Regions from separate parts of the Homo sapiens genome. Here all the other regions are linked to region 4. Evidence: fine-mapped expression QTL. A gene starts in region 4. Each other region holds a variant in brackets. All regions are shown on one strand. Distances are between the middles of the regions. Region 1 overlaps TRIM14 (tripartite motif containing 14). Region 2 overlaps CORO2A (coronin 2A). Region 3 overlaps LOC124902227 (a long non-coding RNA gene). Region 4 holds the start of CORO2A (coronin 2A). Region 5 has its middle 29 kb from the start of TBC1D2. Region 6 overlaps GABBR2 (gamma-aminobutyric acid type B receptor subunit 2). Region 7 overlaps CORO2A (coronin 2A).

Region 1 (4,066 bases), 85 kb before region 4:
TTTGCATTAAGCAGGGTTGGAGTCCAAATTCACGGAAACTCAAAACTGAAAAATAATATGAAAATGAGTCTGGAGCTACTGAAACTCTTAGCATCTCCTGAAGATGCTCATGTCACAGTGCTCTGAAGGGGCACACTCACAATCCACAGTGTATTGGACATCTATGGTAAATAGCTACTGGAGACAAGATGATAATACACGTGACAAACCACACAAGAAAATGAACCACCATGCCTCACCTCCAGATTGGGGATATATTAGAATTGTATGTACAATATAACTCAAGCTACATTAAAAGCATATGCATATACAGGAAAAAAATCTCAAAATGTGAATAATGGTTGGCCTGAAGTGGCAGGATGCAGGATTATGGATGAATTTTTAAAAATATGTTTCTTGATCAGGAATTGAATATAAATGCTCACAGGAGCCAGGTTGTTAACACTGAAGGAAGTGGGCAGGGTGGAGCTGGGAGATCCCATGCCATGGGAGTAGCCATTGCTCAGCTCCATCTGCCCCCACATGAGAGTGCAGGCATAGGGTGGCAATATCTTTCTAATTTCCTAACTATAAATTTTTATACAAATATGTCTCAGGTTTAAAATGCTGACTATTAATTCCATTTTTCTTATTACCTTATGAAGGCCACTTAGGTGTTAGTCTAACAAAACATACAGAATTTGTATGCTGAAAATTACAAAATGCTGATGAAAGAAAACAGAGATCTAAATAAATGGAAAGATATACCATATTCATGGATTGGAAGAATACATAGTAAAAATGTCAATTCTCCCCAAATTGATAAACAGGTTTAACACAATTCCTATCAAAATCCCAACAAACTCTTTTTCTTTTCTTTCTTCTTTTTTTTTTTTTTTTTTGAGACATGGTCTCGCTCTGTCACCCAGGCTGGAGTGTAGTGGGTATGGTCATTGCTCACTGCAATTTCAACCTTCTGAGCTCAAGCGATCCTCCCACCTCAGCCTCCTGAGTAGCTGGGACTACAGGCATGTGCCACCATACCTGGATGATTTTTTAGTTTTTTGTAGAGATGGTAAACAAGCACATGAATAGATACTCAACATCACTAGCTACTGGGGGAATGCAAATTAAAACCATGATAAGGTATCACTACACACAGATTATGCAAGTTAAGATAAAAACTTGTGACAATACCAAATGTTGTCAAAGATGCAGAAAAACACACTCTCATGCATTGCTGGTGGGAATGTAAAATGGCACAACCACTCTGGAAAAGCGTTTGGCAGTTTCTTAAAAAACAAAACAGGCAGGTGCCATATGACCCAGCAATAGCATTCCTGGGCATCTAACACAGATAAATGAAAACTTATGTCCGCACAGAAACCTGGACACAACTGTTCAAAGAAGCCTTATTTGCAATAGCCCTAGACTGTACCAAACAGCCTACAATAGGTAAATGGTTTAAAAAACCTCTATGGTACATGCATACTATCGGATTAGTGGAATATTACTACTCAGCAATACATGGGAATGAACTAGTGGTTCTTGCAACAACTTGGGTGGATCCCAAGGGCATTCTGCTGAGTGAAAAATACCTCAAAAGATCATTTTCCATTTTTATGACATTTTCAAATGCAACAATTATCAAACAAATTAATAATTGCCAGGGGTTAGGGATTGGTCGGGGGGATACAGTGGGTAGGGAGGTGACCATAAAGGTGTAGGTAGATTTTTTTTTTTAAGATGGAGTCTCGCTCTGTCATCCAGGCTGGAGTACAGAGGCATGATCTTGGCTCACTGCAACCTCCACCTCCTGGGTTCAAGCGATCCTCCCACCTCAGCCTTCTGAGTAGCTTGGATTATAGGCGCCACCATTCCCGGCATTTTTTTGTATTTTTTTTTTAGTAGAGATGGGGTTTCAACATGATGGCCAGGCTGGTCTCGAACTCCTGACCTCAAATGATCTGCCTGCCTCAGCCTACCAAAGTGCTGGGATTACAGGCATGAGCCACCTCGCTTGGCCTAGAAGAAGGTAGAACTTGGCAGTGATGGAATAGCCTGCATTTTGATTGCAGTGGTGGTTATGCAAATCTATACATGTGATAAGTTGACATAAAACTATACACACATACCATC[C/CT]TTTTTTTTTTTTTTTTTGGATAGTGTGCTATAGTTATGTAACAAGTAACCCTTGGGGCAAACTAGGTCAAGGTACACAAAACTCTACTATTTTTGCAACTTCCTCTAAATCTATAAAAAGTTAAAAAGTTAGTTGGGGAAAGGGTCAAGAGAAAGAGAACCATGGCTTAGATTAAGCTGAAACCTACCCCAGGCCATCCCTCAGGCCAAGCTTATCCAACCTGCAGCCTGTGGGCCGCATGTGGCCCAGCACAGCTTTGAATGTGGCACAACACAAATTTGTAAACTTTCTTAAAACATCATGAGTTTTTTGGATATTTTTTTTTTCTTTAGCTCATCAGCTATTGTTAGTGTTAGTGTATTTTATGTGTGGCCCAAGACAATTCTTCCAGTGTGGCCTGGGGAAGACTAGACCCTCCACATGGGTCCTAATTCTTGGGGGCCCTCAAACCATATCTGCTCAGGCATTTGCAGACAGGGAGCCTGATCTTCAGGCCTCCCCACAACCCTTCCAACGTGACAGCTTTCACTTTCTAAATCCTTTGGTACTGTCTATCTCCTAGCCCAGAGTTCTGCTTGTGAAGACATGAGAGACACTATTAAGCTGGGACCACAGGTGTGAACTACAAACGTCTTCAGGGTACTGGCAAACTGTCATGAAGACAACTGACAGAGAATGGACTTTAGGCAAATGTGGGAGCCAATTCTGTGGCCTGGCCTGGTCACAGGAGAAACTGGGTGCCAGCTTCTCCCATGGTCACAGCCACTCCTCCTCTTGTGTGAATCAGTCAGGGGTTCCTTTTTTTTTTTTTTTTTTGATAGGGTTTTGCTCTGTTGCCCAGGCTGGAGCACAGTGACGTGATCCTAGGTCACTGCAGTCTCAAGCTTCAGGGCTCAAGCGATCTTCCCACCCCAGCCTCTGAAACAGCTGGGACTGCAGGCGTGCACCACCATACCTGGCTATTTTATTTTATTTATTTTTAGTAGAGATGGGAGTCTCACTATCTTGCCTAGGCTGGTCTCGAACTCCTGGGCTCAAGTGATCCTCCAGCCTTGGCCTCCCAAAGTGCAGAGCAGGGGTTCTTCCAGCTCTCAGTGGGGCAGGCCCCAGGAGGGCCTCCCACCCCAGCCCTCACTGCGAGGAGGGAGCAACAGAGGATGAAGGGGAGGAGGGAGCAACAGAGGATGAAAGGGGGAGGGAGCAACAGGATGAAAGGGGGAGGGAGCAACGGAGGATGCAAGGGGAAATGACCAGCCCCTGAGGCCCTAAAAACACAACAACTTTGTCATGTCAAAATGGTTACTTAGAATAACATCAGCCTCAAGTTCCCATTCAAAATCCACAGAGAATCCACTCAAACATCATTATGAAAGGAGAGTGAAGAAAGTACCTATTTGTGGAACAGATCTTACCCTACTTGCTTTCTTTCAGCATGGCAGTGGAATTAAAGAGATATCTGCATATTCCTTAAGCTGTGTTTTGCTTTGTTTAAGGCAATTTGGGATAATGGGCTAATTCCTCCAAGAGACTGGCAGATGACACTAAGGAACCAGAGATTTGCCACAAAGCAAAGGAAACCGGAGCTCAGGGCCCCTCACTTGCAGAGCCCCTTCATGGTCTTGCACCTAATTTTGTCTGTAATTTTGTGTTCTTTTTCTAAAGAACCCTGAATTATAGAAGCTCCAGGCCCCACCATCTGCCCCTTCGCAGTTGGTTTTTATTTTCATTGGCTCCATATTGGGGGTCCCTTTTGTCTGGGGGGAAATGTGGGTCTTTCCATGGGTATGAGGAAGAAATGTCCACTTGCCTTGAGCTTCTCGGTGGCATCTTCTATCTGGGTTATGTTGTCAATGTGCTGCTGCTTCTTGATTGCCAGCTGCTTTAAACATTCTTGGCTGAGTTTCTGTACAGGAGGGAGTTAGGAAAAAAGTCGTAATACTGTCACTT
Region 2 (4,066 bases), 30 kb before region 4:
GGGGGTCCCCTTGGAAAGAAACAACAAGGACAAATGACCTCCCTAGGGTCTTGGCAACTTGGTGGCAGTGGAGGAGCCACCTTGGGCCTGGGCTCGGGTGGGAAAGCAAGGAGCAAATCAGCAGGCTCCGCTCCAGGCCCCCCCACTCCTCCCTCACCTTGAGCAACTGCTGGGGGTGGCGGGAGTGCACCTGTCTGTGGCAGCTGGTGATGCTCACCAGACGTCCCATTGCTCCCCTCATGTCCAGGCCCCTTCCAGTCAGGCAGCCATAGCACACATCACTGCCTCCTATGACCCGTTAGCCAGTGGATCATGGGAGGCAGTGATGTGTGTCACTTCCAGGCCAAAGCACATGAGACCTGCCTGTGACCCTCTAGGACTCTCGTCCTTGGCCAAAGGGATGAGAAGGGTGCATGTTTCAGATGGTGCATCTATAAGGTAGTTGGTCCCTCAGGAACCATGTGTAGCAGAGCACTTTCTTCTACTGACATACAGTGCAACAGAGAAATACACTTGTAGAGTGAACCATGAGATAAGGGGTTATTTGTCATGGAGGACAGCGACCCATCCTGATTCATACAGCCTATGCAAGTCCGGCCCATGGAGATGGCAAGTGGCTGCCTGTGCTTGGTGTGGCCACAGAGGAGGAGGCAGGACCCAGATCATCTCAGATACCCGGACTCTGAGGGCAGTGGGGAGCTACTGGAGAAATTAAAGGAGGGGAGAAGCTGGGCACGGTGGCTCACACCTGTAATCCCAGCACTTTGGGAGGCTGAGGTGGGGGGATCACTTGAGGTCAGGAGTTCGAGACCAGCCTGGCCAACATGGTGAAACCCCGTCTCTACTGAAAATACAAAAATTAGCCGGGTGTGGTGGCGCGCGCCTGTAGTCCCAGCCACTCTGGAGGCTGAGGCAGGAGAATCACTTGAACCGGGAATGCGGAGGTTGCAGCGAGCCAAGATCGCACCACTGCACTCCATCCTAGGGAACAGAGTGATAATCTGTCTCAAAAATAATTAATAATAATTCTAATAAATAAAGCAGGGGAGATAGAGGACCAGATTTAATTTTCAGGTTTTCCTCTGATTCCTGAGCAGAGGAAAGGATAGAGCAGGTAAGAGGCAATGGTCACCCGGGCTGGAGTAGGGCAGTGAAGTGGACGGGATGGTGGGGAGAGGATGTTACTGAAATACCAAGGAGGTGGGATCAACCAAATGTGGTGCCTGAGTGCATGTGGCGGGCCTGGGGTAGTCGCTGAAATCGACATGAGCTTACATTAACAACAGCCCTGGCCCCTTCCGGACCCTCTGAGCTGTCTCCCTCCACAGCCTGTCTGTGCACCTGTAGGGGGTACCTGGGGTCTGGCCCAACTCCTGAGAGCCACTCTCCATCCAGGAGGAGTGAGGAGGCCGTGAGAGGCCTGGGCAACACCTCCCCTGGAGCTCACAGTCACCTCTGTGGCAATAAGAAGTCATGGTTTTTGAGTGCTTACAAGCTGCCAGGCGCCATTCCAAATGCTTTCCATGCATGAATAGAGCAAGTGGGTGCTACCTTGCTCCCCCGTTCAGATGTAGGTGTTCAGGCCAGTAACCGGGTCACACAGCTAGTGAACAGCAGGCCTGGGGGCTGCACTCAGCTGTCTCAAGCCTGCAGCTTTTGAGCCTGCAGCTCCAGGTCCTCACAGACAATACCCATGATGACAATAGCTCTTTCAGACCCATCACAGCCCTGGATCTCACCTCTGTCCCTAAGAGGAACTGTCATGATCATGATCACTTCCACTCTACAGAGAAGGAAAATGAGGCCCAGGAAGCTAGCTAGAACCCTCTGGAAAGGCTCCCCACTTCCCCACGGATGAAGCCAGCTGACAGCAAAAGAGCGTGAACATCAGTGCCCTTCTGTCCGTCCCCCAATCCTCTCCCCACCCTAACTCTTATTTGCACTGCTAAGATTCTTCCAGACCTGCTGTCATGAAGGGAAACTTCACAAGTAGGGGGTGGGGCAGCCGCTAGCAAGGCCAGCTACCTCTCCCTTTGTATGTGGCATGGAAGTGTATGTGTATATGCATGGGTGAAGCTTGTGCATGCGTGCTGGCCTGTGTGCGTACTGTGTGTGCACAAGAACTGCATTCATCAGGAAGTTCATGAGCGCCTGTGTCGTTTTGTGGGTGTGCATGCACGTGTGCATCCCTTTGGATGTTTAACTGAGGCTGTGTATATACACATGCATGAGCGCATGCGTGTATCCGTGCATGCATGACTTTAATGACTCAGTAATTCAGAGAACAGGAGTTCATTTTCCCTACAAGCAGGCACTTGCCCACAAGTGAGTACTGTAGCGGGCCCTTCGCCTACAGGCTGGGCCAGAACAGCCGATTCGAGCCAGGTCTATCCCAGGCCACTCATCTTATCCTGCCCCATTCCATCTGGCTGGGCCCACATCAAAGCCACA[A/G]CAGGCATTCTCAGGTGTGGCACTCTGGGACAGCCTGCTGGGCACAAGGCGGGAGGTGGCATCCATTCTGCTGCTGTGATCCCATGCAGGCTTGGTGGGCCTGATGCCATGGGATTAGGCTCCGGGGCCTGTGAATTCCCAACTCCCAGAAAGGATGTAGTCATCTCTGGGTTTTGCATCGCACTGAGTTTATTTCTTTTTTTTTCTTTGAGACGGAGTCTCGCTCTGTTGCCCAGGCTGGAGTGTGCAGTGGTGCTATCTCAGCTCACTGCAACCTCTGCCTCCTGGGTTCAAGCGATTCTCCTGCCTCAGCCTCCAGAGTAGCTGGGATAACAGGCGCATGCCACTGTGCCCCACTAATTTTTGTATTTTTAGTAGAGACAGGGTTTTGCCAAGTTGCCCAGGCTGGTCACAAACTCCTGACCTCAGGTGATCCGCCTACCTTGGCCTCCCTAAGTGCTGAGATTACAGGCGTAAGCCATTGTGCCCGGCCTTGAGTTTATTTCTTAACACCTGACAGTGGCTCACAACTCTCCTGCAAGGTAGGTGGGGATTATTTTCCCCCATTTGATGATGGGAAAACTGGGGTGCAAGGGAAGTGACTAGACTGAAGTCATGTTATGATGAGCAGTGCAGGTGGGAAGTAGTCTGAGGACTAGTTGAGAGACCCCTCTTCCTGCTATGCAATATGCTCCTTTCTTGACATACATGCGGGGTGTGTGTGTGTGTGTGTATGTGTGTGTGTGAGAGAGAGAGAGAGAGAGAGAGAGAGAGAGAGAAAGAGACAGAGAGAGTTTCCTGCCTGTTCCAAAGGCCCCTCTTCTTTACCCAGCCCTAAACTCATTGCAGGACAAGGGTTAGCTGCAGGGTGGCTGAAACTGAACCCAAACTGGGCGTGGTGCAAACCATTATAATAGATTATTCATTAATTGTACTGTTTGTGGCTTTAAGGAAAGAATGAAATGACCTGATTTGGTCTTTGAACAGGATGGGTAGGCATTGCTGGCTACCAGTGCCCCTTCGTAAATTTGTGGTTTCACATATAATATTTGAAGTTTTATCTGTTCTCTCTCTTAAAATTTGACTTGTGGGCACAGTGAGCTGCCACCTGTAAGTGCCTGGTGAGAGGGTCTGAACCACCACACTTATGTCACAGCCACAGTTAGGGAAGATTAGAACCACAAGTTACCCAGTTATTTCAAAAACCGAAAAGAGGTTACTGTTAATCAGGATAAAGAACGCTCTATGTGAAGGTGCTCTACAAAGGCTGAGAATTCACACAATACACGTCTCATCATGGGTGGGTCCCTCACCTGGACTCCAATCCCTGACCCACTATTATCCATCACAGTTTATCTTGATCCTGGCCTTGGCCCTAAACTTGCTGGGAAAGCTCTTTTCAGTCATCCAGAATCCTTATGGGGTCTCTGATCCACCCATTGCGAGTGGGATATCTGGCTCTGAAATCAAAGCCCATGGAGGATAAGGCCACCCTGCTGCCAACCTAGGCCTCTGGGTAACCATTTCCCACAGCATCTTCCTTTCTCACCAGGCAGGAAGAAAAAAATACAAGGCTCAGCTACTTCTCCTCTGTAAGGGTTTTATCACAACTGGG
Region 3 (4,066 bases), 140 kb before region 4:
ATATGGCTTTGTTGTGTCCCCAACTAAATCTCATCTTGAATTGTAGCTCCCATAATTCCCATGTGTTGTGGGAGGGACCTAGTGGGAGAGAATTAAATCATGGTGGCGGTTTCCCCCATACTGTTCTCATGGTAGTGAGTAAGTCTCACGAGATTTGATGGTTTTTATAAGGGGAAATCCCTTTTGCTTGGTTTTCATTCTCTCGTCTGCTGCCATGTAAGACGTGCCTTTTGCCTTTCACCATAACTGTGAGGCCTCCCCCACCACGTGGAACTGTGAGACCATCAAACCTCTTTTTCTTTATAAATTACCCAGTCCTGGGTGTGTCTTTATCAGCAGTGTGAAAATGGACAAATACAGTAAATTAGTACCAGTAGAGTGGACCACTGCTGTAAAGATACCCAAAAAGATATTCAAGCTCTAACAGCCTGGGACTCCTTGGGTAAAACAGGAGGCACCACAGAGCCTGTTTTGGGAAAAACCTCTGTTTTTCTCATGAAACCCCAGGAATTGGAAGCAGTTAGAGCCCTCTCAAAATCTAAGGCTCTGTTCTTTTCTGCATTGCATTATCTGATATTTTTGAGTTTTGGGGGTACCAGAAGTTACTTCACATTATGAGAGAAATTTAGTGTGTAATAGCTAGGTAGGAAATACAGTTTTGGGGATAGCTAATGGCAATTATGGGGGAATTCTCAGCTCTTTGCATGTTCGGATCAGAGAAGCATGCTCTTGGCCACCTAGAAAGCATGGAAATGAGCCGGGCGTGGTTCCTCATACCTGTAATCCCAGCACTTTGAGGGGGTCAAGGCAGGTGGATCACAAGGTCAGGAGTTTGAGACCAGCCTGGCCAATGTGGTGAAACTTCATCTCTACTAGAAATACAAAAATTAGCTGGGCGTGGTGGCACATGCCTGTAGTGCCAGCTACTCAGGAGGCTGAGGCAGAAGAATCGCTTGAACCCAGAAGGTGGAGGTTGCAGTGAGCTGAGATCATGCCACTGCACTCCAGCCTGGGTGATGGTGTGAGACTCCTTCTCAAAAAAAAAAAAAAAAAAAGTATGGAAATGTCACCCACACCCCCTGACTGAGAGACAAGACTCCCATGGATGATGGGCTAGTCACAGAATGGGCTGGTTAGCTTTGGATTGCTTTGCAATTAAATGCATGGTAAAATCATTGCACTGTCTTGTTCATAGCATTTCTCCTTTTGGGATCTGAGATCTGGTCTAAAAATGAAACCCTTAATATTGGGGGAATCCATTTTACCTTCCAGGTGTGCCTGCTTATTAGGTCCTAGAAACTGCTTTCCTCACCCTGTTCTACAAAGGGCTCCACTCTAAAGCCAGTAATCCAATTAAGAAATATAAAAACTGGCAAATGAAAAATCCTACAGCTACTGGATCTTCTTCCATCTGTCTGTCTGTGTAGTTATATATGTGTTGTGCGTGTGATGTTTATATAAAAGAGCTCTGATTAATTGGCTTCAAGAAAAATAAGTACTTAAATATTTTGAAAGAAAAATAAAAACTGTAATGCCTTTTAGTTCACATGACTTTAGTAACCTTTGGGAAATAAAAACAATTTTGAAGATTATTGGTAAAATAAAGATATTTAGTCTAATTTAGGCAGGTCAGATATTAGGTTTGCTAAATGCTTTAAGGTTATAAACTGCTTCTTTGGCTTTTGAAAATCGTTCAACTTGAGTAAAGGAATAGGCTGGGCATGGTAGCTCATGCCTATAATCTCAGCAATGTGGGAGGCCGAGGCAGGTGTATCACAAGGTCAGGAGATCGAGACCAGTCTGGCCACATGGTGAAACCCAGTCTCTACCAAAAATACAAAAATTAGCCAGGCGTGGTGGCGGGCACCTGTAATTCCAGCTACCTGGGAGGCGAGACAGGAGAATTGCTTGAACCTGGGAGGCGGAGGTTGCAGAGAGCCGAGATCATGCCACTGCATCCCAGCCTGGGTGACAGAGCAAGACTCTGTCTCAGAAAAAAAAAAAGAGTAAGGAATAAAGAGTGGCTATTCTGGCCGGGAGCGGTGGCTCATGCCTGTAATCCTAGCACTTTGGGAGGCCAAGGTGGGCAGGTCACCTGAGGTCAGGAGTTTGAGACCAGCCTGACCAACATGGAGAAACTCCATCTCTAATAAAAATACAAAAATTAGCCAGGCGTGGTAGCGCATGCCTGTAATCCCAGCTACTCAGGAGGCTGAGGCAGGAGAATCACTTGAACCTGGGAAGTGGAGGTTGCAGTGAGCCAAGATTGCACCACTACACTCCAGCCTGGGCAACAGAGTGAGACTCTG[CAT/C]AAAAAAAAAAAAAAAAAAAAAAAAAAGAATGACTATTCCATATGCAGAGCACCCCCAAGGGCTGCTGGCTGTCCACTTTAATGATCATTTCCTAATTATATGCTAAAGAAGGGGTGGGTTATTCATGAGTTTTCCAGGAAAGGGGTGGGCACTTTCTGGAACTGAGAGTTCTTCCCCCTTTTAGACCATATGGGGTAACTTTCTATGTTGCTATGACATTTATAAAGTGTCATGGCACTGATGGGAGTGTCTTTTAGCATGCTAATACATTATAATTAGTGTATAATGAACAGTGAGGACAACCAGAGGTCACTCTCATTGCCATCTTGGTTTTGGTGGGTTTTGGCTGACTTCTTTACCACTACTTTTTATCAGCAAGGCCTTTGTGACATGTACCCTGTGTCAACCTCCTGTCTCTTCTTGTAACTAGGAATGCTTTAACCTCATGGGAATGCAGCTCAGAAGGTTTCAGCCTTATTTTATCTAGCCCCCATTCAAGATGGAGTCACTCTAGTTCAAATGCCTCTGCCACAGTGATAAAAGAAAAACTTCAGCTGAATTAAGTTTAAAGATGTTTGATTGATCAATGAGCAAGTCACGAATTGAGCAGCTTTTTGAGCCAGGGTAGGCATAGAGACTCCAGTGCAGCTTTGTGGTAGAAGAAGATTTATGGACAGGAAAAGGAAAGTGAAGTACAGAAAACACAAATGAGGTTTAGAAGCAACTGGATTGCTTACATTTCAGCGTTTGCCTTATTTTAACACAGTTGGAACAATTGGCTACATTTGATTGGCCCAAACTCAGTGATTGGCACAGATATGGGCTACAGTCTGTTTACATCTCCACTTGTTGTAGTTCATGATGTACAGAAAATCTTTAGGCTGAACTTAAAATATATAAGGAGGCAGCTTTAGGCTAAACTTGATTTAACAATTCCCCCCTTTTGATCATTTTCTCAATTTTGAGAGATTGACCAAAACTTTAGTCATTCATGTCACCATCCCAGCATAAATATACTTATTTGGTCTTGAAACCCACTGGGAAACAGTAGAACAGTGAGTTTTGCAAGGTGGGAACAAGGACTGAGTAGAGGGTACCTCCTTATGCTGGAACCTCCTGTTTACAGAAGAAAAACAAAACCTGGTTTGTTCTAGGACCTATGTGTTCCTTAAAGTCTTAGTATTGCTATGTCACATTTAGCACGAGTGACTCCATTTTGGTTTGGTTTGGGGCCTAGTGCTCATTCCAAAACAATGGCCTCCCCTAATTTTGTTTTTAAATATTCCCCCTTTTTGGTCACATTCTCCCTTAGGTGAGAGTTCTTACTTAGGTGAGACGGTGACCAAAACTTAGGGCCTTAACGCCACTCTCAGTTACCATCATTTTGGGTTTCTGGTCTCAGCGTGTCATTCATAGGTTATGGTGTCCTCATGGTTGCACATTTCTTTTTTTGAAACAGAGTCTACTCTGTCACCCAGGCTGGAGTGCAGTGGTATGATCTTGGCTCACTGTAACCTCCACCTCCTGGGTTTAAGCGATTCTCATGCCTCAGCCTCCTGAGTAGCTGGGTTTACAGGCAGGCACCGCCACACCCAGCTAATTTTTGTATTTTTAGTAGAGACAGGGTTTCACCATGTTGGCCAGGACGATCTCGAACTCCTGGCCTCAAGTGATCCACCTGCCTTGGCCTCCCAAAGTGCTGGGATTACAGGAGTGAACCACCACACCCGGCATGGTTGCACATTTCTTTCAGC
Region 4 (4,066 bases):
GAATACCTGTGATGACAAAGAGCTCACTACCTGTCCAGGGGCCTCCTGCCCTCTTTTGGCTGTTAAGAAAATCCCTGGGTGCAGGGCAGGTCATGAAGGGGACAAGAAAGACCAGGAGGCTGAGAAGTGATTCCTAGAAACTGCTCCCTCAAACAGGGCAGGCATCAGGGAGGTGGAGAAGAGGCCCCATGGGGCAGGAAAGGCCTGCAGAGGGGCTCCGGCTCTCCTCACTCCGGACCTCTCAGACGGTCCCCAGGAGGGGCAGGAAGCTGGGGAGACACATTCCAGTCCTGATGCACAGGTGGGTTCTGAACAAGCCCCAGGAAAGCGGAGGCCCCACAGCCTGCTCCAGGGCAGACACCTCGGCTCCCTCTTCTTGCCTTGGCTCCCTGGGATCTGATGGGAGAAACTGCTGGGCCTGGGGCTGCTGGGTCTGGAGATGAGCATATTTAAGGGACCTGACCACTGCCCCAGGGTGAGGGAGGAAGGGTCAGAGGTTGTTTGTGTGTCCAGAGCAGGACCAGCAGGAGAGGCAGTGACTGGGTAGCAGATTCCAGCTTGGTTTACAACTAGTGAGATTCCTATCACAAGGAGTGTGCAAGGGGGCAGCAAGACCTTCCAGAGGGGATCTTACAGAGGGGCTGGGCCAGATGCCATAGGTCTTCTTTACCTAGGGAGCCTGGGACCACAGTCCCTCAGACCTGTGCTCTGCCCCATCCCTTAATGCCACGCGGACACAGCACCTTGGCACTGTCACCCCTCTGAGGTCCAGGCGTGGCCGCCAGTCACCCCTTGTCACACCAGCTAGTGTGTGTCACACCTTATCACACACTAGCTCTGGGACACAGAGCTAGGCACCAGCACCTGGCCCGGGTGGGGAAGGGGAAGGAGCTATCCTATACCACTCTCTAAATCGAGGTGCCTACGTGGGGCTGGTCCAGGCAGTCGTGCCGCCAGGAGTCCAGCCACCTCCAACCTAGGGCTCCTCCAGCCCCAGACGAGTAAACCCTCTTGGCGGGCCGGCTGATGCCCCACATGCACGCCCAGGCCGGCTTGGCGGGGACCCGGGGATGCCCCCCACCCCACCGTTTCCTGTACCAGGAAGCTGAGGCCCAGCAGGTAACGCAGCCAAGAGGGGGAGGGTCCCGACAAGAGTCCCATGGAGCACCCGGGCCACAGCAGGGGCCTGTCGGGACCGGCTGGCCGCGCCCAGAGTGAGCTTCCCTCACCGCGGGCAGGAGGGGTGGGCGGTGCAGACAGTGCTCATGAGGGCAGCGAGCCGTCGGGAGCCCGGACCTCGAGGCGGCCCCTCCCAACAACCCCGCGAGAAGGGGGCCACCAATGAGCAAGCTATCCTGACGGGGAAACTGAGGCCTGGAGAGGAGCAGTGCTTTGTGCAAGGTCACGCAAAGGGGCTGAAAGCCAGGTCCCCCGCGCTCCGAGCCCCGCATCCCTCCCTCTCCGGGAGCTGCAGCCGCAGCGCGCACGTCCCGCCCGACGCCCCCATCGCGCAGACCGGGAAGGCACGGCCGGCGGCGCAGGGCCGCCCTACCTTGATGACTGCCGCGCAGGTGGCGGTGGCGGCGGCGGCGTCCAGCTCCGGCTCCGCGCTCCTCGCCGCCCGCCGACTCCCGGCGCCCAGAGCCGCCGCCGCCTCCCCCTGCAGCCCGGCGGGCGGGGCCGGAGGGCGGGGCGGGGGCCTGGCCCAAGGTCCGCCCTTTTGCCCGCCCCGCGGGTCCGCCCTGGCCACCCTTTTCCGCCCCCACGACCCCGACCGCGCTCCTGGCTCCCCGGGGCGGGTCTCGGGGCGCGCACACGTGCTGGGAACAGGCGCGCACACGCCGCAGTGATTGGGGCGGGCTGCCGGCCACCAGGCGGAGGCTGGGGACAGGCAGAGCCGCGGGCCCCACGTCGCGCCGTGCCCTCGCTGCGTGGTGTGGGATGAGGAACCTGACCTCCCGGAGCCTCAGTTTCCCCCGTTGTGAAATGGAGACAGTAACCGCGTCGGCCTCTTAAGGCTGTTTGAGCCCTGGATGTGACGATCCCGGCCGGGTACAGTGCGCGCGCCGAGCCCGGCCAGGGAAGCGCTCCTTTCCCCGAGCAGTTACAGCGGTTACCGAGGCTTCCCCGTCCGCAGGGAGGAGAGGAGCCGGGAGCGCCGCTGGGAACCGAGGAGGACGCCCTTCCTTCTCTCGGGACCAGCCGGGGGCGCTGCTGCCAGCCTCGCTGGCTGGAGAGCCCTGAGGACACTAGACAATGGGGAGGCCCTACCTTTGGGTACCACCCCCACCTAACACTACTGAGCCACGCACTCCTCTAAGCGCCTTCTGTGCATTACCTCGCTTCACTGTCACACAGGCCTATGAGGTTGATACCATTACTCACCTATTTAACACAAAAGAGCTGAGGCACAGAGATATTAAGTACCTAGGTTAAGATCACCCGGCTAGTCATGCAACCCCAGGCAGTATGGCTCCCACGGCTACTAAGCTAACAGCCACTCCACTCCACACCACGTCTGTGAAGAGCTCTTGGTTTTGTTCAGTAGAGACGGGTTATCTTGAGGGCCTTGAACTGCTCCGTGGCACATAGTAACCACTCAATATATAGTTGTGGAGTGGATAACAGAGTACACTGTTACTACTTTACATATCTGTATCGTTTCTTCTAAGCTTCTAATAATAGTGGCTTTATTTAGCCACTATTATTACCTCCATTTTACAGATAAGAAAACTGAGGCTTGGAGTGGCAAGGTACTTAGGGAGCTCTTGATTCTCTCCTTAGAATGTGACTCAGCTTCCATAGTCCACTGTACCACCCCCCTGCCCAGAGCTGGACGGGCTCCCTGCCTACCACCCAAAGCCCAGTGTGCACTATGGTCCTGAAAACCCCATCCTACAGCTCTGATTCAGACCTTCTGGAGCTGGATTGCCCAGCAGGTAGACTGAACGCATGCTTCTGGTGTTAGCGTGCAAGAGTTGGGTATCAAGCATATGGATGGCTGGGCGCAGTGGCTCATGCTTGTAATCCCAGCACTTTGGGAGGCCAAGGCAGGTGGATTGCTTGAGCTCAAGAGTTCAAGACCAGCCTGGCCAACATGGTGAAAACCTGTCTCTACTAAAAATACAAAAATTAGCCGGGCGTGGTGGCATGTGCCTATAGTTCCAGCTACTTGGGAAGCTGAGGCAGGATAATCACTTGAACCTAGGAGGTGGAGGTGGCAGTGAGCCGAGATCACATCACTGCACTCCAGCCTGGGCTACAGAGTGGGACTCTGTCTCAAACAAACAAACAAACAAACAAACATATGGATGAAATCAGAACATTGTGGGAATTCTTTATAATCATGGTTTGGTTTTTACTTGAATTACAGCTGGACGGTGGGCACCATGATCTTTCCCAGGCTAAGGCATCTGAATAACTTTGTTGTTGTTGTTTTTGCATGGTTTTGTTCTGTCGCCCAGGCTGGAGTGCAGTGGCACAATCCTAGCTTGCTGCAGCCTCCACCACACAAGCTCAAGCAATCCTCCCACCTCAGCCTCCCGAATGGCTAGAACTACAGGTGCGTGCCACCATGCCCAGCCAATTTTTATATTTTTTGTAGAGATAGGGTTTCGCCACGTTGCTCAGGCTGGTCTCCAACTCCTGGGCTCAAGCAATCTGCCTGCCTTGGCCTCCCAAAGTGCTGGGATTACAGGTGCGTGCCACCACGCCTGGCCTTGAATGTCTTAATTCACTTAGGGCTTGGGCCAGCATCTCTGGTGTGGCTTTCTACCTCTGCCAATGCCACTCGCCTTGCACTCTGACATCTCTGAGCCTTTGCTCTGTCTGCAGTTCTCTTCCCAAATCATCATCTCCCTTGTCTAAACCCACTCATCCTTCCAGGCCTAGCCTTCCTAGATGTCCTATGGATGTGCCCTCCAAGGCTTGCACCTGCATCTTCCTACCCTGTGCCATGGTGGTTGGTGGCTGGGACTGTTTGGGGAACAGCTGGTTTGACAGAGACATCTCTGGGGGCTGTGGGCATATGGACCCATAAGCCAGAGGGAGACCTCTGCAATGAACC
Region 5 (4,066 bases), 92 kb after region 4:
TCTCCCGGGTTCAAGTGATCCTCCTGCATCAGCCTCCAGAGTTGCTGGGACTACAGGTGCGTGCCACCATGCCCAGCTAATTTTTGCATTTTTGTAGAGATGGGGTTTCACCATGTTGGCCAGGCTGGTCTCATACTTCTGACCTCAAGTGATCCACCCGCCTTGGCCTCCCAAAGTGCTGGGATTACAGGTGTGAGCCACCGCGCTTGGCCAGAGAACATATTTTTCCCTCTGCATCTTGTGGCTGCTGCTTCTTTTATCCTTACTCTGGTCTCTACCTAAACATAGAATTTGCTGTTTTTCTTTATTTCCACTAAAACTCACAAAGCTTTTACTTGTATAGTAAATGTAACCAAAGGTTTAGGGACATTTTGCAGGAGGGAGTGAAATAAAGGGAAGACAGAGGCTTTTACTTCATGCAACACAAATGACTTAAAATCAAATATTCAACATCCCTATTCTTTTTTTTTTGAAAAGGAATTTTGCTCTTGTTGCCCAGGCTGGAGTGCAATGGTGCAATCTCGACTCACTGCAACCTCCACCTCCCAGGTTCAAGTGATTCTCATACCTCAGCCTCCTGAGTAGCTGGGGTTACAGGCGTGTGCCACCATGCCTGGCTAATTTTTTGTATTTTTAGTAGATACGGGGTTTCATCATGTTCGCCAGGCTAGTTGCGAACTCCTGACCTCAGGTGATTCACCCGCCTCAGCCTCCCAAAGTGCTGGGGTTACAGGCATGAGCCACCGCACCTGGCTGACATCCCTATTCTTAAAAGCTTTTTAGCCACACTGTCCTGTTATTTATCACCCACTCCTTTCATTTTTCTCTCCTTCTAACCCCAAACTTCTAGTTCTTTTTCTAACAGAATTGTTCTGCTGTCTCTCTTTTAGCCTTGTCTTTAGAATCTCACCTTGCCCCTAACACAGCATGTCAGGATGTTTTCCCTAATGACATTCTTCCTAGATGCAGTCTGTTGTGAGGAGACTAGGCTGTTGGCTGCCCCATTGTACCTACTAAAGCTGCTCATTTTACATTCCTCCTGTCTGGGAGTAGCACAAATATAAGCTTAGTGTTCACAAGGCACTTTCCCCTACATGAGCCTCTTTGACTGTCAGAGAAGCTCTGAGCGAGGTATCATGTCCATTTTACAGATGAGGGATCAGAAGCTCAGAGAGGTGGAATCATTCAAAGCCATGCAGCCAGGTAAGTGAAGGTGTACAAATGTGCACCCAGGCCTGATGATTTTTCAGATGTAACTCACATCATCACACATAGACAGGATGCGTGCTGTCTGATCACGCAGCAGTCTGAAGTCACATGGATTCCATGACAGGTGATTAACACACAACAACTTAGTTGTCCTTGGTGCAGCCACAGCAGCCCCTGCAGGTGCATGCATTCTACAGAATTGGGCTGCTAGTTCTCTCCCTCTCCCCTCCTCTTCTTTCTCTCTTTTGCTGGCTAGCTTTTACTCATTTTCAGGTCTAGGTATAGGACTGGCTACATAATTTGTGGGCTCCAGTATGAAATTAAAGTGCTAAGCCCTGGGCCGCGTACAGTGGTTC[G/C]TGCCTGTAATGCCAGCACTTTGGGATGCTGAGGTGGGAGGACTGCTTGAGCCCAGGTGATCGGGACCAGCCTGGGCAACATAAATTTTTTTAAATATTTTATTTTTTAGAGAGATCTCATCTCTCTAAACAATAAAAAATTAGCCAGGCATGGTGTTGCATGCCTGTAGTACCAGCTACTCGTAGGCTGAGTGGGGAGGATTGCTCGAGCCCAGGAGGTCAAGGCTGCAGTGAGCTGTGATCATGCCACTGTACTCCAGCCTGGACAACAGAGTGAGACATTGTCTCAAAAATAAACAAGTCAATAAAAAATAAAAATAAAATAAAATTCTAAGCCCCCTTTTCAAAAGTTATTTAGAATTTCAAAATAGTTACAGCAGAGCATTAAGTCGAACATGAGGCCCTTTAAAAACTGTATAGGTTGCAAACCCCCAAAACTAGCCCTGTTTGGAGGCTATGGCCCCCAGGAGGCATGTCCATTCTGGAGCAGGTGCTTATCACAGGCTATTGTCATTTCTTCATTAAGCATCTGTCTTCCTATTAGTGTGTGAGCTTCTTGAGACCTATATCCTACTCACTGTTCACCTGGCACCTAGCACAGGCCTTGGCAAAGATCAGGGGCTCGGTGGATGCCCCATTGAGGGTCTGGGGCTCCTGAAGGTGGGACCTGGAGGAACCAGACAGTGAATTGTCATCTCTGGGCAGGACCCACTCAGGACCACGGACAGGGCAGACCAAGTATGATGGAGTTAGCCCCTGGGATTTGCCAGGGGTTTCAGATGTGGGGTGGAGGCAGAGGAGGGACCAATTTTCTCTTCCAGAGAGTGTGTTAATCATTTACTGTCCAGTACCTACAAACCCTGCTCCTCAAGGCTAAGTAAGGGGTGACAAGCTAAGGGGGTAGGGGACAGGCAGGTGACAAGTGCTGGGCACGCAGCTTGGTGCCAGCCCTCCGGCCCTCAGCCTGGCTCCTTGACCCTTCTTTAGCCTCCTGAGGCTTCTTAGCCCCATCTTCCCTTTGGGTATCCTTACCCACCTCCCTGTTCAGCAGCGTGTGTGAGGCCAGGGAAATATCTCCTGCATGTCTCCTTAATACCAGGAGGGTTTCAGACAACAGTGAACCCCTCGTGGAGCCCCTCTGCATCCCACAGATTTCTTTTGGTTCTAAGTGACAGAAACCCAACTCTATGTAAGCAGAAAAGGGTATGTATTAGTTTAAAACCTACAAGCTCAAGGATGGATGTATTTTTAGGTATCACTGGTCCTTGAGCCTAAATGATGCAATGAGAGCTCAGTTTCCCTCTTTTCATTGCTCTCCACGTGGAGGGCAAGATTTCAAACTTCTTAAAAACGGCAGGGGAAAGCTTTGACTGGCTGGGCTTGGTTAATGAGCATATCCCTGAGCCAATCCTGTGTCCAGCAGTGGAAGCAAGGGCGGCCCTCCAGATTTTCTCTCTTCTGCTTTCCCCCAAAAGTAGGGCAGTGCTTTCAGAGGAGCTGCAGGAAGGCAGATGTGGTTGCTGGACAGGCAGAGGTGCTGATGGCCGCCAGTCTGCTTTTTGCAATCTACCCAGTACCACCTCCTCTCCCTGGCACTGGCTTCTAGGCCTGTGGATCCTGATCCTTGTAGAGAAGAAATTGCTGAGCACAGGAAACTGCCTGGAAGGGCAGGCCTCGGCTGGTGCCCCAGGCTTAATGTTTTCAGAAACCTCTCCCCTTCTTCCCTCAGAGTGGACCCCAGTGTTGTCTCCACACCCCAGGGTGAGGAGACCCCCAGGCAGAGCTTTCTAAGAGGGCTTCAACTCCAGAAAGCCTGTCTTTGAGGTTGGGAAACACTCTTTTATTTTTAACTCAGAAATGACCCAGTCATAACAAAAGGAAGACAGAATGCTTTTGAAGAAGAATGAAGAGGAATGAAGTGCACCATTGCTGTCTGGGCTTTTCCTGCTTATGGCCAAGCAAGGCATCACTTCAGTGATGTGACAAGGAGCATCTTCAACACTTGGGTCATTTCTCTCTTTCAGACGTGCTAAGAGGAAAGACCAAATGTTGTCTTGGCTGACTCCATATTTAGTGAGGCTATGTAAAGATTTCTCAGTCTGTGGTAGCTGAGAAATTGCTCTATGGGGCAGCGTCTCACCGCTGTGGTCGTACTACCTATGGCAGAACAGGTGTGGGAAGTGGACTGAGAAGAGCCAAGTCTCAAAACCAGGACATCTGGGTTCCATGCTGGCCCTCTCGTGACCTTCTGGTTGACCTTGGCTCCAGTTGCTGGGCCTCCGTTTCCCCAACTGTACTAGGAGGGGCTGGGTGAGATGACCGCTGCCACCTTTCTCTGCTCTAATTTCTGTGAGTCAGGGTCAGGTAGAGAAGGAAGACCAGCTAAGATTCTGGTTGTTCCTGCCTTTGCCACAGCCTTATTAGGTGGCCTTGGGTACGTATTCTTCATGTTGGGCCTGTTTCCCATCCTTGAACAACCCACATCCCGTAGGATGGCTGTA
Region 6 (4,066 bases), 120 kb after region 4:
CTGGCATGGCCTCTCAAAGGACACAGGATCAATCACTAACACTTCAGTGATGCAGCAGCAGGTAAGAATGCATTTGAGCAGCACAAGAGATTCCAGTTTATTTGACTTTTGGAGAGAGGGCTTCATTTTTGGCCTCTAAGTGGGGTCAAACGGGGGTGAATGGTGACTTAACCTCCCTGTGGAAAGATCTGAGGAGGGCGCAGTGACCAGCTTTGTGTCACTAGATGGCTTTCAGTGGAAGCATGGTTTATATAGGATATAGGAGAGAAGATTCAAGGATCAACCTGGGCTGAAATATGGTGGAGCTGACCTTTCAAGTTCTTCCTAATGTTGGAATTTCACAACGTGGGCTTGGTATGTGATCTTTGATTTTTTTTTTTGAGACGGAGTTTCGCTCTTGTTGCCCAGGCTGGAGTGCAATGGCCTGATCTCGGCCCACCGCAACCTCTGCCTCCCGGGTTCAAGCGATTCTCCTGCCTCAGCCTCCAAAGTAATTGGGATTACAGGCGCCCACAACCACACCCAGCTAATTTTGTATTTTTAGTAGAGATGGGGTTTTGCCACGTTGGTCAGGCTGGTCTCGAACTCCTGACCTCAGGTGACCCACCCACCTCGGCCTCTCAAAGTGCTGGCATTGCAAGCATGAGCCACAGCACCTAGCATGATCTTTGATTTCAAAAGATGAGTAAAGTGGAAAGAGTGCTGGGTTTGCAGTTTGGAGGTTACTAGGCAGCTTTTGGCAAATCATTTAACCTCTCTGAGGCTTACCCTCCTCATCTATTAAATGGGGATGATCCTGCCCACCTCCCATGGACTTAAGAGAGGGTCCGCTGAAATGCTGGACATGAACATGCACTGGATGTCGGCAGACTGCTCTTCCTGGGAGTAGTGCAGTGACAGCTGTAAGGCACAGCCACGAGTTTTTGGGTTACTCTCTGGTTAAGATCTTGACTCTGCCACTTACTAGCCAGATGACCTTGGGCAAGACACCAAGCCTCAGTGTCATCAGTGAAATGAGGATGTTATTTGTACCTATCTCATAGGGTTGCTGCAGGAACTGAGATAGCATGTGGCAGGCACTGAGTCCACAGAGAGTAACTGCTTAGTCATGGAGGCTCTGTTTATTTTTACATTGATGGAGGCCCCTGGGAGACAGAGGCCCAACAAAGAAGTGTCCCCCCTCAACACTGTCTCCTGCTCTGCACCTACCATGAGAAGTCCCTTGTAGGCATAGACGATGCCAAGCCAGATGGTCATATGGGTGTTCTCACAGTGCTCCAGGAGAGGGCGGATGGAGATATCCCGTCCTGCTGGGTCCGGCTGTGCAAAGAGAAAACAGAGACTCAGGGATGGCACAGGACACTCTTCCAGCAACTGGGTCCTTATCTGAGAGCCCTTTTCCCTCCTGTGAGCCATAGCCAATGCCACTGTTCAGCAGGCCATTTGGACCCCATCTCTGTGTTCCTAAGGTGTGGAGCCCAGGCCTCAACTAGCGTTGACTGCCTTCTGTTTGTTGGTAGCAATTCAACCCTGCACTCCAGTTCTCTGCATAATTCATGCCTCTCCAATTTGAGTCAGAGCTCCTGAGGGTAGGAACTGGGTCACTTCTTTGCCCCTAGGATCTAACACAAAACCTGGCCCAATGCAGGTACCGCTAATATTTGTTGTGAGAATGAGGTATAAAGTTAGGTCAGGAGGTCTTCAGGTATCTCTGGGGTTACCTCTGTGCAACTGGAGATATAGGATATACTGGCCTGCCCAAGCCTGGGGCCTGCCAAACCCTTCTGAGGAGACCCTCTTGCCCACAGCCCCACTGCTGGAGCAGTGATGGCAGCCAGGTTGTGTACCACATGACTCATCCTTGGCCAGAGCTGACTGGACAAAGAATGGGCACCTGACCCCAGGCAGCCAATCCAGAGGCTTGTCAGATACCTATGAGGTTTCCTCCTACAAAGTGCTCTGCCTAATGAGGGTTGATGGAGAGGATCCCTCCTGAGCACATTCTCTCTGGCAGGAACTTGAATTGGGAAACTCTGGGAGAT[A/C]ATTGGCCAGATGGTGGCAACAAGACAAAAAGACACCCAGGGAATGAAACAACATCTACTGTACATTTATTTTTTTCTGAACCATTTGAGAGTAAATTGCAGATATCCTGACCCTTCACCCCTGAATATCCTAGCATATATTTCCTAAGAACAAGGGATTCCCTTGCACAATCACATACACTTACTAAATTCAGAAAATTTAACACTGATACAGTGTATTATCTAATATACTAGCCATTTTCAGATTTTGCCAATTGGCTTAATAACGTCCTTTAAAGCAACTGTGGATTTTCCAATGCAGGATCCAATCCAGCATCATTATTGCACTTACGTGTCTTTGGTTTCCTTTAATCTCAAACAATTCTTCAGCCTACTTTGGTCTTTCATGTCATTGTTTCTGAAAAATCTAGTTCAGTTATTTTGTAGAAGCCCCTCAATTTGGATTAGCCTGAATGTTTTATATTCAGATTTTATGTATTCTTGTCAGGAATCCTACATAAGTAAGAGTCACATCAGGGGGACGCGTTGGCACTCTGTGATCACTTGGTTGACATGATTTCTGTCAGACATCCATTTCAAAGGTATCATTTCCCCATTTGTAATTAATAAATAATCTGTGGGAGCTACTTTGAGACTGTGTAAGTATCCTGTTCCCCCACAAATGTTCACGCAGTGGTTTCAGCAACCATTGATAATTCTTACCTGAGTCATTTATTACTTTGGTAGCTGCAAAATGGTGATTTTCTAACTCTACCATTCTATTTAAACACTTGGCATTCTACTGCAAAGAAGAGCTTTCCTTTCCTCCCATTTATTTATGTATATCAGTATGTTCCTTTTTTTTGAGATAGAGTCTCTGTCACCCAGGCTGGAGTGCAATGTCGTGATCTCCGCTCACTGCAACTTCTGCCTCCTGAGTTCAAGCAATTCTCATGTCTCAGCCTCTTGAGTAGCTGGGATTATAGGCGGCCGCCACCATGCCTGGCTAATTTTTGTATTTTTATTAGAGATGGGGTTTCACCATGCTGGCCAGGCCGGTCTTGAGCTGCCGACCTTAGGTGATCTGCCCGTCTCCGCCTCCCAAAGGGCTGGGATTACAGGCATGGGCCACCATGTCTGGCCTAGTATGTTCCTTTTTAATTCAATGTCTTATAATCCTTTGCTATCTTATTCATGTTGATGCTTAAATTTTTCCAGATTGGGCCAGTGGAAAACAACTTCATGCTGCCTTCTATGTTTTTTCCACACATCACCATAATTTTTTTGAGCACTTTCTTACTTCTTGGCACAACGATTCCAGCACTCCTTGAACTCTTCTTGCTCCCAGCCTTGCAATCAACCATTTCTCCAAGGAGTCCTTGTTCTTTTTAGTGGAGAATGGTGTTTAGAAACCAAGATGTAGGCACTTGATGGTCTCACTGTTCCTAAGTTGTCACTACTTCTAAGCTCTTTTAAAAATAAATCTGTCTGTCTGTCTGTCTAGATAAGATCCAACACTGCCGAGTTCTTGCTTGCCTTCCCCATTCCATATTTTCATCACTCTTCTCCAACAGTGGAATCCCTGCCTTCGAACAACATCAAAATATTTACTGATTTGTTCAGTCCTACATTAGACACTAAATAGTTGCAAAATTGATACATCCATACAACTGTCAAGCACAAACTTACTAAGTAAAGTTGAAGATTCCTTTGCAATCTGTTTGCCACTGGGAGTATATCACCAAATAACTGTGTTCAGGATGTTATATTCTGATGGAGTTGTGCTGTTGAGGCCCAGGGTAAAGCCACACTCCTGAGGGTAAGGCATGGGCATCCCCAGGGTCAATCACTAGGAAGAAGGTACTTTGATGGGACCCAGGGGTAGAAGGCAGGTCTTAGACGGGTAGCGTTTAGAAACTAGTTTTTTGGTCTTGCTCTCCAGGTGTGACCTTTGAAGCAGGCAATGGACCTGGGCTTCTGTGAGGTGGGGGAAAGATGGTGCTCCCACGTGAAAGCAGGAGGAGCTAGGAGGGGTGGGACCTGGG
Region 7 (4,066 bases), 24 kb before region 4:
GAAAGTAGAATGGTGGCTGCCAGGGGCTGAGGGTAGGGAGGAATGAAAAGTTATTGTTTAATGGATATAGAGTTTCAGTTTTGCAAGATAAAGAGTTCTAGAGATGGATGGTGGTGATGGCTGCACGGCAGTATGAGCGTACTTAATACCACTGAACTGTACACTTAAGAATGATTTAGATGGCAAATACTATGTTATGTGTATTTTAGTACAATGAAATATACATATATTTTTTAAAAGATCCGGTTTCTTTAAGATGACAAGGAAAAAGGGACAAGGGTCATTACAGTTCAGAAGAGACTTAAGAGATCAGAGGCACAGCAAGAAGTGCAATGTGTGGATCCTGTGTGGATCCGGATTCACACAAACCAATTGCAAAAAGGCATCAGGAAGCAATCAGGGAAAGCTGAGTGGGCACCTGACAGTATTAAAGAATTGTTGTCATTAGGTGTGGTAATAATACTGTGCTTATATTAGACAAGAGTCTTTATCTTTTAGAGACGGATGCCTAATATTCACAGATGAAATGATATAACATCTGGGATTTATCTTAAAATAACTTGCGGTTGTTGGACAGAGGAGGAGGGAATGAGTGCGTAGAGATGAAACAGGCTGCTGATGGCTACTGAAAGTGGGTGAGGGTACAAGAGGATTCATTTGAATCTTTCCTTTAATTTTGTATGTGTCTTTAAATTTCCATTGTAAAAGATTTAAGCAAGAAAGAAGCAGGAGAGCACAGAGGTGGCCCAGGCCCCGGAGCTTGACTGTCAGGGGTCTAATCTTGGCTCTAAACGGCCCTGTCCAACACAGAACCTCTAGTCCCACAAGGCTTCTAAATTAAAGTTAAAATTAAATAAAGTGTAAAATCCAGCTCCTTAGTCACACTAGCAACATTTCAAGAGCTCAAAAGCCACATGTGCTTCATAATCACAGATGAAACCATACAAGCAACACCCAATGAACAGTGTAATTAAACAACATGCCCATCTCTGAACAAAGTTCTGATGGACAGCACCACCCTATCATTTCCTATCTGCCACTCTGGGCAAGTTACTTAATGTGTCTATTTCCTCACCAGGAAAATCAGGCACTACAAATACACATACTAGCTAACGCCTATATTACTGACTAGGTGTTAAGTATGTTCCACATACCAACTCAACCCTCATGCAAGTACTGTCATAGCCCCATTTTTAAGATAAGGAAACAGGGCACAGAGAGGTTATATAACTTGCCTAAGATCACATAGCTAGTTAGTGGCTGGGCTGGAATCTGAAGCCAGGCTGTTCAGTCACAGGTCCACACTCTCTCGCAGGGGTTCCTGGACACTTACATAAGGTGATACACACAGCATGCAGAGTGATGCTTGGTGCATACTTAGTGTTCAAAAGACGTTGGCTAGTAAGATTGTTGTGGTCCCAATGTGTACAAGACACTGAGATGTGATTTAACACACAACAGGTATATGCTGGGAGGCCAGCATTTTGGGTATCTAAGTAAAAATCCCAAACCAGAAAGCATGAAGCAGCCTCCCAGGGGCCAAGTGGCTCGTGAGAGTT[C/T]CAACCCCTGGTGCAAACCATGATGATGGGGAAACAGACACACACATGCAGAAGGCTAGCTGACAATTCCTACTGATCAAAAAGAATCCAAGAGAGTGCATTTGTGCATCTCTCCGGGCTGGGTTCTCCTAGGTGGAGGCCAGAAGGCCCCACCCTGCCCTAGTGCTGAGGGACCTGGGACGGGGTGGAGGGGTGGGGGAAGAAGCCCTTTGCTTTTTCTCCATCAGCACAGCCCAGGCAGGGAAGCAGAGCGCAGCCATCCAGGGACCCTCCTTTGGGGCTTGACCATCACCAGCGAGGCAGAAGCCGTCTGCAGCCGGCAAATGCAAACAGCAAATGCAAAGAGTCCCGTCCTCAGGTTTCCGCCTTCCCCGCCCCCGCGCCGCCCATCCTTCTGGTCCAGCACAGATGCATCTCTGCAGGCCCACAGGAAGTACAGATTGAGTCAGAGAGCAAACCAAGACAAGGCCTCTTTCTTCCTGATGAGATTAGGCCTGAGGGAGTGCCTCCTCCCCACATCTGACACTGCCCAGAGCCACCGTCCCTGGGCGGGCCACCTCCTCCTGCCCTGCCTCCTCCCCAGCCCTGCCCCCACGGCCCCCACCTGCTCTCTACCCCTCTCCCAGGCCATGCCAAGGCCTCAGCAGCCTTCTCTCTTGGGGACTCAGGCCTCGCATATTCCACCCCCAACTCTGGCCCTGCACTTTCCCTTAAAATGCACCCCGGGTCCCCTCTGTCCTCAGGATAAAGTCCTCTGCTGGACTTGGGTTTTGAGGTCCCTACGTTCCCCCTGAGTCTTTGACCTCCTTCTCATCTCCACAGACCTGTTCTCTGAGACAAACTGGTCTGTCTGCTCTCCCCTCAAAGCATCGTGCTTTTCAAAAGAGAAGGGGAGAAGCAAAAAGAAAATAAAAAAGCATCATTTTCCCAGATAATCTGTCTTTGCTCATGCCCCTTCCCTCTGCCTAGAACTAAGCCAGCTCAGGTAAGTCGCTGGGTGGCTCTTAGCAGGGCTCTTAGAATGCCCCTTCCTGTCACCCCACCTTCCTGGCCCAGCTCCAACAGAACCACCTCCAAGGAGCCTCCCCAGCTCTCAGACTGAGCAGTCTCTCCATCCCATGAGGTCCCATCCTGACATTTGGGGAGGTAGCCAAAGGCAGGGAAAAAGAAGGCACCAAGTTCAAGCCCTGGACCCCTATTTGTCTCTGTGCCGTAGCATTAGAGTATCCTCATATTTTTCTCATAGAATCTAGAAGATTAAATGAAATAATGTATGTAAAAGACCTTGCATGTGTCTGGCACAAAGTAGGAGCTCAGCCCATGGAAGCGCCCCTCGTCTCCTTTCCTGCCCACTGTGTTTTTTCCTTCTCTTCCTTCCTCCCCCACCAACACACCCATAGGACTGTCAACCTTAGATGGTTCTCCCCTTCTGCTGTGCCCACCTACAGCCCTGTGGGTACCCAGGGGGAGGCCAACCTGACTCCCAGCTTGAGCTTTCACTCACACCAGCAGCTTCTTCTGAACCCCTCCTTGAGGTGGTAGGAGCCAAGGGGCTGGGCCCATCACTGTCATAGCAGTTGTGCTGGTCAGGCTGGAGAATCCTAATTCTTTTATTGTTGTTGTTTTTTTGAAACAGAGTCTCGCTCTGTCACCCAGGCTGGAGTGCAATGGCGTGATCTTGGCTCACTGCAACCTCTGCCTCTGGGGTTCAAGTGATTCTCCTGCCTCAGCCTCCCAAGTAGCTGGGATTACAGGTGTGCACCACCACGCCTGGCTAATTTTTGTATTTTTAGTAGAGCAAAGGGGCTTCACCATGTTAGCCAAGCTGATCTTGAACTCCTGACCTCAGGTATCTGCCCACCTTGGCCTCCCAAAGTGCTGAGATTACAGGTGTGAGCCACTGAGCCTGGCCGAGAATCCTAATTCTGACACCAATTCGCTCCGTCACCTTGGGCAAATCTCGTCCCCTCTCCCGCTTTCTGAGTTTCTATCCATATAATAGTAACAGCCCTGCCCTGCCCACCTGTTAGGACGGTCTGTGGAGGGTGCTGCAGCTTGCACACACCAGACACACACAGGACCACAAGGGCGACAGAGCTGTCCAGCCATCAGCTGTCCTGAGAAGGTCTTGTCCTGCCTGGACCTTCTGGAGACAGAGCAGAGCTTCTTTCTGTTTAATCCCCCAAATCAAGCCCTGACCAAAACTCCACACAGGTTTATTGCCCCACAATCTCCTTATCTGGGAGTTTCGAGCGACAAGGATCACTGGGGATTTTCCAAGACACCTCCAGGAGGCTGAAAATCTGGCAGCTCCACTCCCTGCTCACTGTCCGCTTTCTGGCACAGAGCTTTCAGACCTGTCTTTGGACAGAGAGGGACACTGAGGCTCAGAGAGGAAGCGCGCCTTGCTTAGCGTCCCACAGTCAGCCCGAGGCAGGGCTGAAGCTCTGTAACTCTGGTCCTGGGGTGGGCATCCAACCAGGGGTCCTGCATTCTGTTCTCAGCGT

What was found. PIP is the estimated chance that this variant, and not a neighbour inherited with it, causes the effect. A credible set is the group of variants that fine-mapping cannot tell apart.
Region 1: its variant is the best candidate, but not a certain one, in a credible set for the expression of CORO2A in monocytes (Kim-Hellmuth 2017, PIP 0.73).
Region 2: its variant is the best candidate, but not a certain one, in a credible set for the expression of CORO2A in pancreatic islets (PISA, PIP 0.67).
Region 3: its variant is the best candidate, but not a certain one, in a credible set for the expression of CORO2A in whole blood (INTERVAL, PIP 0.61).
Region 5: its variant is the best candidate, but not a certain one, in a credible set for the expression of CORO2A in visceral fat (GTEx, PIP 0.61).
Region 6: its variant is the best candidate, but not a certain one, in a credible set for the expression of CORO2A in skeletal muscle (GTEx, PIP 0.76).
Region 7: its variant is the best candidate, but not a certain one, in a credible set for the expression of CORO2A in unexposed skin (GTEx, PIP 0.61).

What each region holds. Positions count from the first base shown.
Region 1 is chr9:98,105,963-98,110,028 of GRCh38, forward strand. It overlaps TRIM14 (tripartite motif containing 14), which reads right to left. Exons shown (of 6, transcript NM_014788.4): 2 at 3,927-4,022. Among named protein-coding and RNA genes, the nearest start is that of TRIM14, 11 kb to the right of the region's middle. The variant C/CT (reference allele first, on the strand shown) is at 2,119.
Region 2 is chr9:98,160,546-98,164,611 of GRCh38, forward strand. The region is part of intron 1 of CORO2A (coronin 2A); the gene reads right to left. Among named protein-coding and RNA genes, the nearest start is that of CORO2A, 30 kb to the right of the region's middle. RefSeq lists an enhancer at 1,933-2,433. The variant A/G (reference allele first, on the strand shown) is at 2,452.
Region 3 is chr9:98,047,029-98,051,094 of GRCh38, forward strand. LOC124902227 (a long non-coding RNA gene) reads left to right here. Exons shown (of 2, transcript XR_007061687.1): 2 at 1-1,175. It also overlaps a transcript of TRIM14 not described here. Among named protein-coding and RNA genes, the nearest start is that of NANS, 7.7 kb to the right of the region's middle. The variant CAT/C (reference allele first, on the strand shown) is at 2,310.
Region 4 is chr9:98,191,007-98,195,072 of GRCh38, forward strand. It overlaps CORO2A (coronin 2A), which reads right to left and starts at 1,631. Exons shown (of 12, transcript NM_052820.4): 1 at 1,553-1,631. RefSeq lists an enhancer at 484-1,138 and silencers at 1,291-1,340, 1,411-1,960.
Region 5 is chr9:98,282,651-98,286,716 of GRCh38, forward strand. No RefSeq gene overlaps it. Among named protein-coding and RNA genes, the nearest start is that of TBC1D2, 29 kb to the left of the region's middle. The variant G/C (reference allele first, on the strand shown) is at 1,566.
Region 6 is chr9:98,309,886-98,313,951 of GRCh38, forward strand. GABBR2 (gamma-aminobutyric acid type B receptor subunit 2) reads right to left here. Exons shown (of 19, transcript NM_005458.8): 14 at 1,210-1,320. Among named protein-coding and RNA genes, the nearest start is that of TBC1D2, 56 kb to the left of the region's middle. The variant A/C (reference allele first, on the strand shown) is at 2,043.
Region 7 is chr9:98,167,272-98,171,337 of GRCh38, forward strand. The region is part of intron 1 of CORO2A (coronin 2A); the gene reads right to left. Among named protein-coding and RNA genes, the nearest start is that of CORO2A, 23 kb to the right of the region's middle. RefSeq lists enhancers at 1,672-1,861, 3,810-4,066 and a silencer at 2,142-2,291. The variant C/T (reference allele first, on the strand shown) is at 1,560.